Homo sapiens: one gene and its partners. The protein of the gene in region 3 interacts with the protein of the main gene of each other region in a pairwise test. Each region holds a gene or a part of one and is shown on either strand. Other genes may lie near its edges.

The links.
Region 1: the proteins of KRT33B (region 3) and RAB26 interact in binary tests that used the Homo sapiens proteins (3 or more experiments, as listed by UniProt).
Region 2: the proteins of KRT33B (region 3) and NUP54 interact in binary tests that used the Homo sapiens proteins (3 or more experiments, as listed by UniProt).

The regions. Positions count from the first base shown.
Region 1 is NC_000016.10:2,143,802-2,151,625, forward strand, and holds the start of RAB26 (ras-related protein Rab-26), read left to right. Parts: upstream 1-4,823; 5' UTR 4,824-4,982; coding exon 4,983-5,177; intron 5,178-6,139; coding exon 6,140-6,250; intron 6,251-7,767; coding exon 7,768-7,809; intron 7,810-7,824. UniProt on the Homo sapiens protein: The small GTPases Rab are key regulators of intracellular membrane trafficking, from the formation of transport vesicles to their fusion with membranes.
Region 2 is NC_000004.12:76,138,397-76,145,428, reverse strand, and holds part of NUP54 (nucleoporin p54), read left to right. Parts: intron 1-955; coding exon 956-1,039; intron 1,040-1,136; coding exon 1,137-1,280; intron 1,281-7,032. UniProt on the Homo sapiens protein: Component of the nuclear pore complex, a complex required for the trafficking across the nuclear membrane.
Region 3 is NC_000017.11:41,362,988-41,366,835, forward strand, and holds the end of KRT33B (keratin, type I cuticular Ha3-II), read right to left. Parts: intron 3,640-3,848; coding exon 3,483-3,639; intron 2,567-3,482; coding exon 2,405-2,566; intron 2,314-2,404; coding exon 2,188-2,313; intron 2,013-2,187; coding exon 1,792-2,012; intron 967-1,791; coding exon 849-966; 3' UTR 511-848; downstream 1-510.

The sequences.
Region 1 (7,824 bases), on a different chromosome or scaffold from region 3:
TCCAACGTCTCCATGGCAACGTTCACACGGATTTCATAGAACATAAGGTGTTTGAGCTGGAAGGGACCTCAGAGATCGGCTCCTCCTGCCCCCTCATTTCATGGAGAGGGGAGCAGGCCCAGACAGGGAATGCCACGTGCCCAGGGGCACATAGCAAGCCGGGGACCCCGCGGAGGGCACAGACCGCTGAGCTCCAGAGGAGGGTCTTGGGAGGTGCCCTGGGGGCACAGGCCGTGGCGGCTTTGCCACTCCCTGGCTTGCTAAGAGCCCCTTGAAGTCCAACCCAGCTCTCTGCTGCTCAGCCACAGAGCTCTCGCTCGAGTGCCTGGCGGGAACAGGAGTAGGCAGGACAGGGCCCTGTCCTCAGGAGGCTCCCAGGCTGCTACAGCGGCCATGCAGCCGCTGGGGAAGGGCTGGAGAGCATCCAGGGAGCCAGAAGTGGGGCAGGAGGAGCCAGGGCAGGCTCCCTTGAGGGTGGGGCTCCAGGCAGAGTCTGGAAGCCTGAGGAGGCCTCACTCGTGCCTGCGCCCCCTCTCCTGGCACACAAGGGCCAGCCCGAGGGCCCCACTCTGGGGGCAGAGTGTAGGGAAGAGGCTGGAAAATGGGGGCCAGAAAGAGACTGTCCTGATCCATGGCTCCCAGGGGTCGTTTTGGCTGGGGGCTCACAGCACACATCCTTCCAGACACCCAGGACGGTCAGAAGGAACTGGCAGGAGTTAGAGGGCACGGTGTAAGGATGCCAGGGGGCCGGGCCGTCAGAAGGTAACAGGAGCGAAAGTCCCAGAGCAAGGCCCCAAGGAGACCCAGGGCGCTCTCTCCGCTCGAGGACAGGAACCCGTGGAGACCTTCCCCTCCCTGGAAGAGCCAGCTCTGCACCAGAAGGGTGGGGGGCTGTAGCACCCCTCCCAGGGGAACACGGACCTCACTCTCCGCCCCCAGCTCCCAGGGCCCATCTCAAACTCGGACCCTGTCTCAGGGACCTGCCCTGGCCCACAGGACTCCTCTCTTCTCCAGGTCTGAAGATGCCAAGAATCCGGACATCCCAAGGCCTCCCTGCTGAACTTTCCCACCATGCCGGCCCCCGCCTTGCCCTCGCCGGCCCCCGCCTTGCCCTCGCCGGCCCCCGCCTTGCCCTCGCTGGCTGCCTGTTCTAGTTTTTCTAGTTTTATTTGTTGTTGTTGTTGTTGTTTTTTGAGATGGAGTCTTGTTCCGTCGCCCAGGCTGGAGTGTGGTGGTGCGATCTCCGCTCACTGCAAGTTCCACCTCCCGGGTTCACGCCATTCTGCTGCCGCAGCCTCCCGAGTAGCTGGGACTACAGGCGCCCGCCACCACACCCGGCTAATTTTTTGTATTTTTAGTAGAGACAGGGTTTCACTGTGTTAGCCAGGATGGTCTTGATCTCCTGACCTCGTGGTCTGCCTGCCTCGGCCTCCCAAAGTGCTGCTGGGATTACAGGCGTGAGCCACCGCGCCCGGCCTTTTTTTTTTTTTTTTTTGTGGAGACCAAGTTTCGCTCTTGTCGCCCAGGCTGGAGTACGATGGCGCGATCTCGGCTCACCACAACCTCCGCCTCCTGGGTTCAAGCGATTCTCCTGCCTCAGCCTCCTGAGTAGCTGGGACTACAGGCGCCCGCCACCACACCTGGCTAATTTTGTATTTTTAGTAGAGACGGGGTTTCTCCATGTTGGCCAGGCTGGTCTCGAACTCCCGATCTCAGGTGATCCGCCCGCCCCGGCCTCCCAAAGTGCTGGGGTTTAATCCATCTTTAACCCACTGCAGCATCCCACTGGTCTCTGCCCATGGGCATGGACTCTGACCCTCCCCTCCCTGCCTCCAGGCCTACAGCTTCTTTCCTGAAGGTCCTCTCTGTTCCTATTATCCCTCCCCTGGGTGACTGCAACCCCCATCAATCTCATCTCCAGGCCTACAGGCTCCACCATCCATCCCCTCCTGCCAGTCCCCAATATTCCTGTAGCACAGCGTCCTCTGTTGTTCTGCTCAAAAGCCACGCACAGCTCTCTACTTCCCGCTGTACAATTTCCAAGCTCCTAGGAATAACACTCAGGTTTCCCTTCCCAGCTGACCCCATCCTACCTTACCAGCTTGATTACCTCCCGTTTCCTCCAAGGAACTGGGCCACACTTTGGCCACCTCGGCACAAAGTGCCCATCTCCTAGCACTCTCAGCCTATGCATATTGACTCCCTCCACCTGGGGACTGTCTTTCTCTCTCGTGTCGGACTCTAGCTCAATCCTCAAAGCCCAGTGCAAACCCTCCCTCCCCCAGAAGCCTTGCCCTCACTACTGATCACACTTGCCTTAAATCTTTGTTAGCAAGGACATGTCCTCCTGAAGTGAGGCCTGTGTTTCTAAGTCACATTTCTTTCTCTTTTCTTTTCTTTCTTTTTTTTTTCCCCAGAGTCTCGCTCTGTCACCCAGGCTGGAATGCAACAGCACAATCTCAGCTCACTGCAACCTCCTCCTCCTGGGGTCAAGCGATTCTCCTGCCTCAGCCTCCCGAGTAGCTGGGATTACAGGCGTATGCCACCAGGCCCAGCTAATTTTTGTATTTTTAGTAGAGACGGGGTTTCACCATGTTGGCCAGGCTGGTCTCAAACTCCTGGCCTCAAGTGATCTGCCTGCTCAGCCTCCCAAAGTGCTGGGATTACAGGCGTGAGCCACCACACCTCTTTCACCAATTTAATAACTGCTTATGGAGGCCCAGAGCTGGCTGCTGGGGACAGCAGTTGACCAAGACAAGCTGCTTCCTGTGCCCGGAGAGCTTACACTCCAGAGGGTGAAACAGATGGCAAACACAGCAACCAAGAGACATAATGATCAAAGATTCCGAGGCCTGCTGGAAGCCAAGAGAGGGGTCTGTGATGCAGGCACCCAGAGCTCCCCATTTTCAAGAGAAACCAGAGACTTGGATTTTTATGTAAACTCTCCTAATTTTAAAGGTTGCCAGCGCAAGCCCGTTTCCTCTGCTCTCTCAAGGCTCCCCTCCCCGCCTGGCCTCCCACTTTCTCCAGCGCGCCTGCCTCCTTCTCTTCCTGGGGGCCCCATCCGCACTCCTCCCCCTGCAGGATGCCCTACTTGCACCCAACTCCTCCTGCTGCCCGCGCCCTGGGGGTACCTGAGCAGCAGCTGGCAGGACGGGGTCCACTGGACTGGGAGTCCACTGCCCAGGACCCTGGGGCCAGTGCACAGCAGCTGCTGAGGCCCCCAGCTCAGACCCTGGGCCAGCCATCCTGAAAGAGGCCTTGTAGCGCGGGTGGACACCTGGAGTCCCCAGGGCTGCAGCTGCAGAAGCTAAATGCCTCTACCCAGGCCCAGTGCACACACACTGGGGGTTGGTCTGGAAGAGCTGGGGGGCCAGAGGAGTGAGACAAGGAAGGGTTCTGAGAGGGCTTCCGGGTTTGACCCCCAGCTCTGCCAGGTTCCTGGGGATTAAGTCTACAGGGATTTCTGCCATGGGACGGTTTATGTTCTCTGGAGCTGGAGATCACAGGAACAAATCCTAGCTCTGCCCTTCCTAGCCTGCTGACCTTGCACAGGCTCCTTGCCTTTCTGGGCCTCGGTTTCCCCATCTGGACACTGAGGGCAGTACCCACCTTGCAGGATAACTTTGAAGAGGTCGTGTGCCTGGCACACAACAGTGCTTGCTGTAGGGCAGGCTTCCACGGCCTCTGCCAGGCCCTCTCGAGGAATCACTCTGCTGGGCAGTGCCCCCCATCTGTGTTTTCTCAGGCCTCTGACCCGAGAGGCAGCCAATTGTTTGGACTCTGGGCACTGCCAGCTGGGAGGGCTCAGGTCTCTGAAGGGCCCAAGGTCCTGGTGACAGCTGTCAGGTCTCCGGGGACAGCTGGGTCATCTCTCCAGCTCCCAAAGAAACACCAAGAAGCCCCTGCATGCCAAGGACACCACCCCTCTGGACCACTGTGCCCCAGCTCTGACCACTGCAGTCCCATCTTCTCTGTGAGAGGGGGTGACAGAGCTCCAGTGCAGCCCAGGTTGGGGAGGTGGGTCTGCCAGGGACCAGCTTAGGATTTGGAGAATCGGCCCTGGCCACCTGAAGGTCCGAACCTGGAGGAGAAGGACAAGGGGCCAGCCACACAGCCTGGGCAGGGGCCTCTGCTTTCCACCTTTCAGACCCTGAGGGCAGAGTCCCGTGGGAGGGGACCCTCAGGGGGCCGGGGGCTGGCTGCCACAGCGACTTCCTCCTTCCCGCAGATCCCCAGGCGTGCACAGCAGGCAGAAGCTGTGGGGGAGATCGCAGCGCCCGCTGTGTCCTCCCGGTGACCAGCTGTCACCTGAGCCCAGGGCGCCTGCCCCAGCAGCCTGGTGTGTTTGCCAAGCCAGGGCTGGAGCTTCCTGGACCCGCCTACCCTGGAGGGGATGGAGCAGTGAAGGGCACCGGGCCAAGCGCTAGGCATCTGGGGCTAAGGAGACAGAAGCCCGCGGTGCCCGTCCATGCGGGCCCTCTGCCCCAGCACCCACATCTCAGGACACCCCTTCCTCCCAGGTCTGGCGGTCCAGTTTGGGGGTCACCGAGCTGGGGTGGTGTGCAGCCAGCAGAGGGGATTCAGGATCCCGGGGTGACTCCTGGCCCAGGCCTGTCACCCCACAGCTGGCTCCTGGCCCCAAGGCAGCCACGGGCAGGGGTCGTGATCGGGGGCGGGACGGGGCCCGGACCTCCTGACCGCCCCCCACCCCCCGCCGAGCGGGGGTGTATTTGCATGTCCCCGCCCCACGCACGGCATTGGCGGCGGCGGCGGGAGGCCGGGCCTGAGTGGCTGCGCGCCCGTGGAGCGGCGGGGGCGGGGCGCGAGCCGGGCGCCCGGGATGATGCCGCCGCCGCCGCCGCCGCCGCCGCCGCCGCCAGGGGAAGGGTTCGGGTCCGGGTCGGGCTCGGCGGGCGCGGGGTGCGGGACGGCCCAGGGCACGGCGGCTGCAGCGGGAGCACACTGAGCGCCCGCCCGCCATGTCCAGGAAGAAGACCCCCAAGAGCAAAGGGGCCAGCACCCCCGCTGCCTCCACGCTGCCCACCGCCAACGGGGCCCGACCGGCGCGCTCCGGGACTGCGCTTTCCGGCCCCGACGCGCCGCCCAACGGGCCCTTGCAGCCCGGCCGGCCCTCGCTTGGCGGCGGTGTCGACTTCTACGACGTCGCCTTCAAGGTGAGCCAGGCACCCGCCCCCCAGGCCAGCGCAGCAGGTGGCGCCCGGCCTGAGCCAAGGGTTGGGGGTCGGACAGGGGGTGCAGGGCCCGCGGCCCCAGGGCGCGGAGCCGACGCGGGAGGAACCCCGTGGGGCTTGCACGGTGCATCGTGCACACACAGCTGTCCATCCCAGGTCTGGGGTATCCAACAGCTGGCAGGGCCTGTCCCCCACCCCCCAGGCGGCATGGTGGCACAAGGGGTCCCGCGCCCCAGTGCCCTGGCCCCCGCCCGGGGTCTCACCATTTCCCGTATGCTGCCCTCCCTCAACCCAGCGGCTGTGGGCCTTTTTTTTTTTTTTTTTTTTTTGCTGGGGGGAAGAGGTTTGCCAGATGGATGGGGAACCCTGGGACTCCAGACCAAGGCAGAGGCTGTGTGGACTTGGCAGGGGGCTGGGAGGACCATTTTGGGTTTGGTAGCACAGGTTTCGGGGAGAAGGCCTGACTGCTGCCCACTTGCACCTCCCCCCAACCTCAGACTTGGCCCAGGTCCCTCTTCAGATCGAGATCTGATCCTAATGGGGCAAATTCCTCGAGCCTTGCTGGGGTCATGTCCCTACTGGGATGTGGAGAAGCCCCCGGCAGAGGCCTCCCCAAGTCTCTTAGGAGGTACCCAGCTGCCACCCCACCTGCTCCCCTCCCAGATGCTGTCCACCGTGTGGGGGTATGGACGTTAGGGAGGGTCCGGGATGCAGGTGGCTGCCCTCACTCCCCGCTGACTGAGACGGCCACTGTGCAGAAGGACAGAGCAGCCCCAGCCTTTCAGAGGCATACGCTGGGTGTCCAGCCCATCGGGGTCCCTGGCCCCGCTGAGCCTGCAGGCCTGGGCTGCCTCCCTCCACTCCTGCTCCTCACCTGCAGCCCCCTTCTGACCAGGCCAGCTCAGGGCAGACCAGACTCCCCCCAACCCTCCTGCTTGTCCTAGGTCATGCTGGTGGGGGACTCGGGTGTGGGGAAGACCTGTCTGCTGGTGCGATTCAAGGATGGTGCTTTCCTGGCGGGGACCTTCATCTCCACCGTAGGCATTGACTTCCGGGTGAGTGGAGGCCCTGGCCTGGCCCCACATCAGAGTCCCGCCGGTACCCGAGCAGCAAGTTCTCTCTGATCCCCATGGTACCAACAGGCTCGAGGCCTGGACCCCAGAAGCTGCCTGCCTCGACCTTCCAACACCTGGGCTGGTGGCTGCACCCGACAAGCATAGTTAGTTGCCCTATGCCAGGGGCTGGCATTACCGAGGGACCATATCCTGTGCCTTGGGGGAGGCGGACACTGTTGCCTACAGGGTGGTGGGTCAGAGGAAGTCAAGGGCCACGTCCACTTGGGGCCAGCAGTGCTGCCTCGGTACAGAGGCCTTACTGGGCCCTAGAAGCACATGCTCCCTGCAGAGCCTGAGCGAGGGTTTCCAGGGCTTGCCTAGGGGAGAGGACCCTGCTCTTGGGTGAGGAGCGCCCACCCCCACCCCCACCAGCTGGAATTCCTCGTGCTGAGGTGCCGGCTTGTCCTCAGCAAATCTTAAATTTGCATTTTTCTCACCCTTTAATTAGAGCCAGTTAGAGGGAGGATGGAGGAAGGGCTGTTCCAGGGACAGGAAAAGGGGCTCCCTCCAGTCTGGGGGTTCCAAGTCCCCTCAAGTCCTCTGGGATGGAGTGACGACTGAAGTGCCCGAGGGGGGCAGGCCAGTCCTGTCTGGTCCCCACTTCCCCACCTCCCTCTTGGCTCTCGGGCAGGTGGTAAGAGGTGAGGCCATTTGGTTCGCACTCTCGTTCAGGGTGCCAGGGAAGGCGGTGTCCTCCCCAGCCCAGCAGATGGCCCTGCCTGGTTCCCGGGAGACCCAGAAGCACTCTGACAGCAGGAGCTCAGGCTGAAGGAGGTGGCACAGGTTCCAGCTGCCCAGGGCCTCAGACTGCGGCTGAAGCCCCCCGCCCCCACCCCAACAGATGGGACTGGGGCTAGACCACTCCCTGCCTTACGTCTAATCGTTAACTGGGAGGGCCCGGCTGGGGACGCTGCCAGGCAGTTCTGGGATCTGCGGTTACTGCCTTGGGTCAGACAGGCCCAGGCCCAGCCCTGACAATCCCAGCAAGGAGTGGCTTTAATTTTTTATTCTTTTGAAGCAGGGTCTCACTCTGTCGCCCTGGCTGGAGTGCAGTGGTGATCATGGTGGACTGCAACCTCCAACTTCTGGGTTCAAGCCATCCTGAGTCTTTCAAATTAGCAAAAAGAGCTACTGGGAAGGCTGAGGCGTTGCAGCTCGTTAGTTACTGCACCCATTTGCAGATGAGGAAACCGAGGCAGTGTCAGTAAGAGGCCTGGTGGGGTCATGAGTTCAAATAAGTCAGCGTAAGAGGCTCTAAGCAGGAATAGTGCAGAGGCTGCCGGGAGAGGCCTGCACTTGCAGGTGTGGGTGAGGTCAAATTGGCTTAAGGGAAGCCTGCAGGGGCTGGGCTGGACCTGGGAGCTGGGAGGTCTCAGGGGACAGGAAGGCAGTGAAGCTAGTGGGACCAGAGGCTGGGCTGGGCCCATGCCAGAGCTGCCTGGTTCTGTCTGTTTCAGAACAAAGTTCTGGACGTGGATGGTGTGAAGGTGAAGCTGCAGGTAAGGTGACTGGCA
Region 2 (7,032 bases), on a different chromosome or scaffold from region 3:
CCAATGTGATATGTTTGGCATGCTGTTTTCAAAACATTTGAATTCCTTGCAAAAAAAAGTAGTTGAATTAGGGTTTAAAAACCAATAAATTTTTTTTTTTTTTTTTTTTTTGAGACGGAGTCTCACCCTGTCGCCCGGGCTGGAGTACAGTGGCAAGATCTTGGCTCACTGCAAGCTCCACCTCCCGGGTCCACGCCATTCTCCTGCCTCAGCCTCCTGAGTAGCTGGGACTACAGGCGCCCGCCGCCACGCCCGGCTAATTTTTTGTATTTTTAGTAGACACGGGGTTTCACCGTGTTAGCCAGGATGGTCTCGATCTCCTGACCTTGTGATCCACCCCCCTCGGCCTCCCAAAGTGCTGGGATTACAGGCATGAGCCACCGCGCCCAGCCAAAAACCAATAAATTTTACATAGAAAATCCAGATTTCCTGTTTCTCTTGGGGTAAAAAATGGGAATATGTGACACTGCTAAACTACCTTTCTTGTATCTGCTGGAATTTAGGAACTGCTGATCTAAAAAACTATTCATTTTAAACAGTTCCACCTATCAGTAAACACATAGTCTACTTTACTCTTTACTGTTATCAGTCTAAATCTTCTAGGCATATGAATTTGCAACACCTCCTCTAAAAGTACATACATAGTCATTTTAGAATTATGGCAATAGGCTTAATGTGTTTTCTCAGCTGTAACTGTTAACCACCCCTTTAATTGAAGGGTATATATTACATTGTGATATTTCTATTTTAAATGCTTAGTTCATTTCTTGTAACATTTTGACTTCTTGATTGGTAGTATAGTTTTTTAAAAAATTGATCTTGAAAGTAGGGAAAGGAAAAATTAGATCAATATATTTTGATTTTATATGTAGCAATTATAAAATAATTTTAAAAAGAAGTTGCCTTTATATATACAAAAGATTCTTCCTTTCTATTTTTGTTCTTTTTTAATTAGGTGGGTTTGGAGGATTTGGGACAACATCTACAACTGCAGGTTCTGCATTCAGCTTTTCTGCCCCAACTAACACAGGCACTACTGGTAAGAGGCCATCTTAAGTCATTCATAGAAGTAAATGAAGTAGAGGTCAGATTTTTTTTTTTTTTTAACTTACGAAGTTCCAATTTTTCATTCAAAGGACTCTTTGGTGGTACTCAGAACAAAGGTTTTGGATTTGGTACTGGTTTTGGCACAACAACGGGAACTAGTACTGGTTTAGGTACTGGTTTGGGAACTGGACTGGGATTTGGAGGATTTAATACACAGCAGCAGCAGCAAACTAGTAAGTATGAGGTTTTCAGCTTCAAATACAAAACCGTGATGATACTAGCTGACATTATTGAGTGCATTCAGAATACTTTAGTGGACTTTTTATAAGAATTATTAATATATTCCAAAGGATTAGGAATGTTACTTTTCATGTTTAAATATGATAGCAACTGGGGAGAACACTGATTGGCACAGTTAGGATTATAAGGTCCCTGTGTTTAGGATCATTCCATTTAAATTTTTGTTGTTAAAAATAACAAATAGAGAAACTGCACAAAAGTACAGCTTAATGAATTATATATAAGTTTACAAAGGTTAACACCCTTGTAATCACTGCCCATGTCAGGAGATGGTTCCTGGCCAGCCAGTTCAGAAGCCTACCACATTTCCCTACCAATTGCTTCCCCATCAGAGGACCTGCAGTCTTGGCTTTTATGGTGATCATTTTCTTACTTTATATTTTGTCATTCAAGTATGTAAACAGTATTTGGTTTTGCCTGTCTTAAATCTCCATAGGCTCCTCTTTTATCTCTCTTTTTTATTTATTTTTTATTTTTTGAGACGGAGTCTTGCTCTGTCGCCCAGGCTGGAGTGCAGTGGCACGACCTCGGCTCACTGCAACCTCCGCCTCCCAGGTTCAAGCGATACTTCTGCCTCAGCCTCCTGAGTAGCTGGGACTACAGGCGCACACCACCACGCCCAGCTAATTTTTGTATTTTTAGTAGAGACGGAGTTTTACCATATTGGCCAGGCTGGTCTGGAACTCCTGACCTCGTGATCTGCCTGCCTCGGCCTCCCAAAGTGCTGGGATTACAGGTGTGCGCCACCGCGCCTGGCCTCTCTTTTTTATTTTTTAATTTGTTGAAGAAAACAGATCATTTATCCTATAGAGTTTTTTAGTCAAGACTTTTCTGATTGCACGCCTATGGTATAGTTTAACACATTCCTTTGTTCTCTGTATTTCTTGATGATTGGGTTAGATCTGGGGCGTACATATATATATTTTGTTGTTTTGTTGTTTGTTTGCAAGACTATTTTATAGGCCTATTTTTTATCAGAAGACATATAATATCTTTTTTTTTTGAGTGATCAGCCATTGAGCCATTGGTGATCATTACCTAGATCCATTAATTCATTAGGGGTTACAAATAGTGCCATTCCACCTGGATTCATTTATTTGTTGAAATACTTCTGTGAGGAGAAACTTGACTTCATCTGTTTGGTTGATTCTTTCTCTTTATTACTGGTTTTCAGAATAAAGAGTTGGTTATCTAGCATTCTCCAAAGATGACCAATTTTTTTTTAATGTCAGAAACTGCAGCCTTTAAACTAGTTACTATTTTTTAATCCATTGCAGTTACCATTCTTATTGATGCTTAAATTGTTACATCTTTGGCCAGTGCAAGCCTTTTCAAGTTGGCTCCCAAGTCCCTTTGAGACAGTCTGGTTATTAGTCTTTGATGGCTTCCTTACTAACCATCCTTACTAGGTGGTATGGCAGTAGGTTCCAGGGGTTGTTCTGTATGGATTAACTTATTCTCACAAGAACCCTGTGAAATAATACTTTTGTTATCCCCATTTTATGGGTGAAGAGAGGAACCTGAGAGATTGTGACTTACCTGTATACCTCTCTAGAAGAAGTACAGGGATGCAAATTCAACTACTCATTCTAGTGCTCTTTTCACTTTTCCAATCTGATGCCTCTTAAAATTACTTCTGTTTCATTTTTTTAAGTAACTTGATTGACTAGCTAAAATTCATCCTACTCAGTCACTGAAGATTAGTTATTAACTTATTAAACATGAATTTCAAGGATTGCCTAACAGTAGGATGAAGATAATAGAATAGTATTCTCAGAATTATTCTTTCAAGTATTCCAGTCATTCGTCTTTTCTACAATCCTGCAAAAATACAAAATTTGATGAAATATTTAAGTAGTTAAGGAAAGAACAGCAAAAGTGAAGTGTTTCCTTTGTTTCTTGAAATAAAGTCTCTCCAACTATGAGTAACTGTAGTTACATTTGGTTTTTTTAGGAAAATGGGAATTTGAATCTGGTGCTATTTTAAAATTGAAAGGGGCTCATTTTGTTATGTAATATCCATTTATTGTATATATCGTATGTCAGGCATTGGGTGTACAAGGTTGAAGACCACAATCCTTGCTCATAGTCAAGGAGATTCTAGGGTATCCACGCAGAGGAAATAACATGGCATGGTTTATGGCAGAGTATAATGCCTTTGGGACCAGTATAACTAGATCAGTGCAGTTTTTTTAATGCATAAATGACCTCAGGGTCAGTAGTGAGAGTTGGAGAGATAGATATGAATTGGATTATTAGCGTGCCTTATATGTTTTACTAAGGAGCTGTCCTTTAAGCAATTCTAAACTGTTGTAGGATTAAGTAGACAGGAAAATAATCAGATTTTTAGAAGTATCTCTTAGAGAAATACAAAGATAGATTATAGGTGGGTTGGAATGGAGGCAGAGATCTGGTGAAGCTGTTGCCAAAATCTGAGCAAGATATAGTGAAGACCTGAATTAAGGCAGTGACAGTTAAGAATGGAGAGAAAAAACAGGATGTGAATTTGAGAGAGATTTAACTTGTAGAATCAATAAAAGCGAATGACTGGATAAAGGTATCTTGGGCTTCTGGGTGGCGTAACTGAAGGATCCCTTGCTCTTCACTAAGATCCAGAATACTAAAGCAAGAGCAGATGTTTGTGGGTAGATAATGAGTTTGAGGTGTCCCTTGGGTAGTTGTATATATTTATGAAAGCCATCAGAACGTAAGTAGTATTTAAAGTGGTAGATATGGATGATGTAATTTAGGAGACCTGATTCCAGAGTAAGAGGAGAGTACTAGAACAAAACTCTTAGAAACACTAACACTTAAATGCTGCCATCTCCTATCCCCAAGCCAAGTAGGATTTTGACCATAAATTAGCGAGCAGCATTGTTAGGACCACTGCTTGTCCTATCTCAGTATAGAGATGCCCGTCCATGTATTCCTCATACTTATTAGCTCCCTTTTACTAATCACAGCTATTCCTATCTCAGTTGGCAATACCTGTGAATCAAGGGGAAAAGTCACATTTGACTTTGTGACAACCGCCAGAAGTCCTTTCCAAGCCAAAGCATGGATTATCGAGGATCCTTCAGAAGACTGTTGGATCTTTCGACAACTGATACTTTCTGCTCTGTTAGCTCTTTCTGTCTTCACTACTCTAACTAGCTTAGATTCCATGGCCTTCCATTTCTATATCTCTTGCCAATATGCTAAACTTCCTTGTTTTTGTGTCACATTTGCCTGAAAAAACCCCAAGCCTTTGTAAGCCCAACTGTCTGTGTAGATATTGCTTGAGAAAGATCACACATTATGGAAGAGGGGATAATACCTCTCTAAATTCTTGATCACCAACCTCAGGTCTCAATGTTGCCTGGTAATCCTGTGAAATTTCTACTTTCAACTTATTCTCCTGCTTTCTATAGCAGTAATTTTAAACCTTTATTCTCTTCAAATCTCAAATTTATCTGTTCTTACTTTTAGCAGATGGCCTTGACTGCTACTTCCAAGACAAAAAAGGGCTGAGCGCAGTGGCTCACATCTGTAATCCCAGCACTTTGGGAGGCTGAGGTGGGCGGATCACCTGAGGTCAGAGACCAGCCTGGCCAACATGGTGAAACCCATCTCCACTAAAAATACAAAAATTAGATGGGCGTGGTAGTGCACACCTGTAGTCCCAGTTACTCGGGAGGCTGAGACATGAGAATTGCTTGAACCCCATAGGCAGAGGTTGCAGTGAGCTGAGATCGCACCACTGGACTCCAGCCTGGGTGACAGAGCAAGACTCTGTCTCAAAAAAAAAAAAAAAAAACCAAAGAGAAAATAAAATCCCTTATTGCAATTCCTTCAACTTCCCTCCACCAAATCTATTTTTTTTCTCCCTCTATCCACCTTTTCCTCTTTTTACCTGACTCAGGATCTTATAACCTCCTGCCTTTTCAGGGCGCATGTGCTGTTGATTATTCTAGCTGTACTCCGTTCCCCAGTCTTCACCTTCTCATCCACATTTAAGTAACTCAAAGTTTATTTTTTCTTGAAACAGTAATAACAACAACAACAAAACTACTTTAATCCCACATTTCACTTCAGCTACCACTCTCCTCCCCTTTACAAACTATTCGCCAATCTGGTTTCTGTTTTCTTTATTTTATCAAATAAGTTAAGGTCATTAATCATCTCAGTAAATCCAGTGAACACTTACTGTTCTTTATGAAAAATGCTAACAAAGAAAAAAAGAAGTGATGTGAACCCTACCAGCTGGAGTCATCAAAAGTCAGAACTTGTTATTGTCCATCTCCTTTTTCCTTTTTTTAAATCACTGATGTATTTGAGAGCAAATCCCAAGCGTGTCATTTCATGCTTACTTTACTATACTTCTCTCTTTAAAAATGTGTACCTCATTCCAACCCACAATAATTCCTTGGTACTATCTAATACCCCATCTATAACCAGAGTTCCCTATTTGTCTCAAAAGCGTTTTCTTATTTGGTTTGTTTGAATCATGATCCAAACAAGGACCACACATTCATTTTCTTGTCATGTCCCTTAAGTTCTTTTTAGTGTAGAGAATTCCCCATTCTGTTTTTTCCCTCATGAATTTTCCAGTTGTCTTGTTAAATGCCCCCCATTCTGTATTTTTCTTCTGCTTCCTTGTAATATTATTTAACTTTATCTCTCATAATTGTGGTAAATAAAGTTTGCTTTAGGGACTTGACGTTTGCTTTTTTGGTAAGAACATTTTGCAAGTGGTGCTGTGTGCTTCATATCACGTCACGTTGAGAGGCTATCTCACTTTTGGTGATGCTAAGATTGATCAGTAGGTTCAGATGGTGACAGCGTATCTTTATCTTACTACTTTAACCTAATGGTTTCATTCCTTGATGATCATTGCCTCAATCAGTTATCTTATTAGGAGTTGCAAAATGGTGATTTTCTAATTTCCTCCCTATCACACTGAAATTTCTTCTGTAAAAGGAACTTTTTCTTCATCCTCCAAGACTGCTTGATCACCCTGATGTACAGTTTGTATAGTAAAGGCAAGATAATTTTTTTTCTTTTTAATGGACAATTTTTGTAAAAAGGAGTTGGCGGTCTCATTATTTCTAATGGTATCCAAGGAGTTAGGATTTAAAAAAAATTTGATCTTTACTTTATAAAATTACCATTTTGAATGCATGGGCTTTAATAAATATGTTTCAGTTGTTGCATTTGGCCAGTGGGAGACCTTAACTTCTGTGACACTCCAGTCTAGTTTTTTCCTACCTCATTGTTAGTCCTCCTTATTGCTTTTGTCCACTCATCTTCCTCTCTCTGTCTCTACAGAGATGTTACACATACTGTTGGCCTTTACCTCTACCCCATGGCTTAGCTGACTCCTTCCTTTAGGCCCTAACTGAAGTGCTAATGGAACTGTCTTCTCTTGACCCCTCTCTCAGGCTTGATCAGCTCCCTTATTTAGTACTCCCAGAACCTCTGTACTTCTCTGAAGGACTTATCACAATTGTTAATATTTGTTTGATGTGTTCAGTTTGTTTAATGCACCTTGTCTACCTTGTTTACCACTGTATCTTTAGTATTTGGCTCTGAGCACTTAGTAGGTACTCAGTAAATATTTGTTGTATGAATTAATGGTGAATGAATGAATGAATGTGTTTATAAAAAACCAAGAGAGACTGTGTTGTCAGGAAATTTAAGGGAGAA
Region 3 (3,848 bases):
GATGTATAAGCTCTGGGTGCTTGTTTGAAATCAATTTTGTCCTCTCATAATCACACCTCATGTGTAACTGACAAGCAGAGAGTGAACTCTGGGTTCAGTCCTGCCATTGATTCTTCCTCACTGTGAGGAAGAGAAAAAATTAGTAGCACAATTCCTGGCATTTGGTAGGTGTTCAATAAATATTAACTTCTGTCATCCCTGCTAGGGACTTAAAAGAATGAGTGGAACTGTCTAGAGATGCTCACCGTTGCATTTTACTGAGTAAGGTCCCATGAGAAATATGTTTATCATATTCAGACGAGGCCTCTTGTCCTAGTGATCCTACTTGTTTTATGCTGGCCTAAGTGGATGCTGGGACTCACTGTGCTTAATGAATGTTAATGAAGGTGATGAAGACCTTTTAGGAGATGATTAACCTATAAAGTCCTCCTTCTGCTTTCAAGTGGCTTTATAAGAAGCACACAGAGAGTCAACACTTTGAAAAGAATGAATACAAATGAGAATCATGTCTGCTTTGCAAGAGGAAAGTTTATTAGGCGATTTGGGGAACTGCAATAAAGGTAGAAGCAGCAGAGAGAACAAAACACCTCGTATGCCACTGTCACAGCTCCAACCTCTGACCATCAGAACTCAGACTGACTACAGGAGAGGGACCTGGGGTGAGGAGGATCAAGTAGCCCTAGGCTCAGAGTCAGACCCAAACGCTGGGCATTTGTTCTCCTTCCAGACCATGATTTGTGGTGATGCCTCGGGGTGGGGTCCGGTGGCTGATGGTTGTCAGAGAGGCAGAACTGGCCCACCGATGGTAGTTCTGTCTTCATGCTATACTTCTGCTGGCCCCAGGGTATCTAGTACCCAAAGGTGTTGCAAGGCCCACAGCGGGAACGAGGACCACAAGGATTGGTGACACAGGATCCAATGGGCTTTTCACATGCATTGGTGGTGGCGCAGGGGTTGGAGGGCAGCCTGGGATGCAGAAGCATTAGACTGTCAGCATGAGAAGGGTGATTCAAACAAGGGAGACTCAATCCAAAGAGACACAGAAACAAGCAGAACCCGTTCTCTGATGTCCTAGGAAGCCATGCCTTGTTTGGATCACTCCTTCTACAGAGTTCTGATACAGTGGCAGAAATGAGCAAAGAACATGTAAGGTGGAATCCCAGCCTTCCTTGTATGACCCTAGACACACAAGAAAGTCACTTCCTCCTTCTAAGCCTCAGCTTTCCCACCTGTAAGGTAGGACTGGTAGTACCAACCACACAGGATTATGAAAATTCCACAAGACTGTGTTCATAAAAATATTATGTTCGCTGGCAACTGCTGTACTGTTAGTTATTGATCATCAACCCTATTGACACTCAAATGCTCATCTATAAGAAGGTGATAATGATTCCCACTCTGCCTGCCTCAGATGATTCTAACAAGAATTAATGAAACGGTGGATTTGAAAGTTCTGTTTAAATCAGAAAAAGTGATCATTGTTACAGTTTCATTTTCCTTTTTGTGGTGACAAGACAGTCCTGAAGACAGAAAGATTTATTTGGCCATCAACATCCAAAAAATCTCTACTGGAGGAAGGAGTCAAGTCCCATGACTATCTTTTGTAAAAGAAAGTATCTTTAGCCCAGATAATGTTAGCAACAAATATCCTACACTTCCCACGGCTGTAATATAAAACTCTCGCCTCTACAGACAGATTGGCATCTGAAACTTGATTTTCAAAGTCTCTGTTTTATCCTACAGTAGAACAGTGCCTGTCCCTTGCAGGGGTGCCGTCCGCCAGGTACTCACTTGCAGTCCTCGCTCTCCAGCAGGCTCCGGTATGTGTTGATCTCACACTCCAGCCGCGCCCGCACGTCCAGCAGCACCTGATACTCCTGGTTCTGCCGCTCCAGGTCACTGCGGATCTCCGCCAGCTGGGACTCCACGTTGGTGATCAGGCTCTGCACCTGGGACAGCTGGGAGCTGTAGCGGGCCTCGCTCTCTGTCAGCGTGTTTTCCAGAGAGTATCGCTGTGGTGGGAAAGATCAGGAATGTCAGAGAGCTGCTCCTTATAGGGTTCCTCCATGGGGTTCGAAAAAACTCACAAGCTCCAAGAGCTAAGAAGAGTGTGTGGCCCCAAGGGCATCCCCAAGACTCTGCCTCCCAAGTTCCCATCGCTCACCAGCAGGTCTGAACAATACACACCAGGTTGTGCTGGGCCTGCAGCTCGATCTCCAGGGCATTGACTGTGCGTCTCAGCTCGATGATCTCCGCCTGGTAGGACTGCAGCTGCTCCGAGCTGGATACCACCTGCTTGTTCAGCTCCTCGGTCTGAAACACCCAAGGGGAGAAAGGATCAGACCCTGCCTCCGGGGCCCTGGGGGGCCTCGGGTCCTGAGTGGCCACGTGCTTAGATGCCCACCTGCGTGGCGAACCATTGCTCCACTTCCCTGCGGTTGGTTTCCACCAGGGCCTCATACTGATTCCTGGTCTCGTTCAGGACCTGGTTCAGGTCCACAGCGGGAGCAGCGTCCACCTCCACGTTGAGGCGGTCTCCAAGCTGGCAGCGCAAGGTGTTGACTTCCTAATGGAGAAAAGGGAAGAAATAAACCCACAGAAAGAAGTCTTTCAATAACTTCTTTGAGGCAGTTCAATATAATGGGAAGAGGATTGCATTGCAGCTTAGGAAACATGAGTTGAAGCCCAGCTGTCACCTCTGGAAATTCTGGCCTCTTCTCTGAATCCCTTCCCTCATCTGTATGATACGGCTGCTTCATTAAATGATTGCTAATATTTCTACCCAGTCCAAGATTCTATCATTTCTTTCTTATTTCCCCTTTGCTCAGTGATAAGCCTGGCATGATAATTGGCTTACAATTGTTGCTACTTAAATATAGAGAAACCAGGTTTCATTCCTCCTATTTATTTCATGGGATACTACTAGAGTATGACACATGTTTTCATCATGAAAACGTCTAATGTTTGAGACATGCATCTGATTTCGTAGTATTGCATTCAGCCATGAGATCTGAATCAACCATTATTTGAGTTATTTCATTTCTCCCGTTTTTCCCATCCATCAGTTCATCCATCCATCCATTCATCCATCTATCCATTTATCTAGCTTGAGTTCTAGTTATCTAGGTGAAACAGAGTGTAAGAATGTTTTCTATCTCCTTCCAGTCTTGGTCATTAACCTACCTGGCACCTCTTCAGAAGCTAATAGATAGCATCAAACAGTAGACAGTAGTTTAAAGATATTTGTGTGACCTTTCAGCCATACATGTCTGGTCCCAAGGGGAAGTAGGTCAGCTTACCACACTCCTTTATGTAAAAAAGGTAAGCTGTCACTCATTCCCCAACAAGCCCCAAAGTATGTTTTGAGCAACCAGCAAAATGTTGTTAGGCCTAGGGTGCTTAGCAAATCAAATCCTACCTTATCCTATTCAGGGGGATCACAGAGCTCTCAGTATTGGGATATTGGGGGCTGGGACTCTTACCTGCTCATGGTTCTGCTTGAGGGACAGCAGCTCCTCCTTCAGGGACTCCATCTGGGCCTCCAGGTCAGACCTGCACAGGGTCAGCTCATCCAGAATCCTGCGCAGGCTGTTGATGTCGGACTCCACCAGCTGCCGCAGGGACTGCTCCGTCTGGTACCTGCACACACAGCCAGAGGTCAAAAGAGGTCCAAAAAAAAAAAGTCTTTGTTTCCCGGCCTTTACTTGGCTGACTTAGTCAATTTTATTATATTTTGAAATATTTTGAATTTAAAAAATTAAGGGAGAAAATACTCCTGTACTGAGTGAGAAGGCCTATTTTGTCACTGAGACACACAGAAAAGGTATTGGTGGAATGCCTGTGGATAG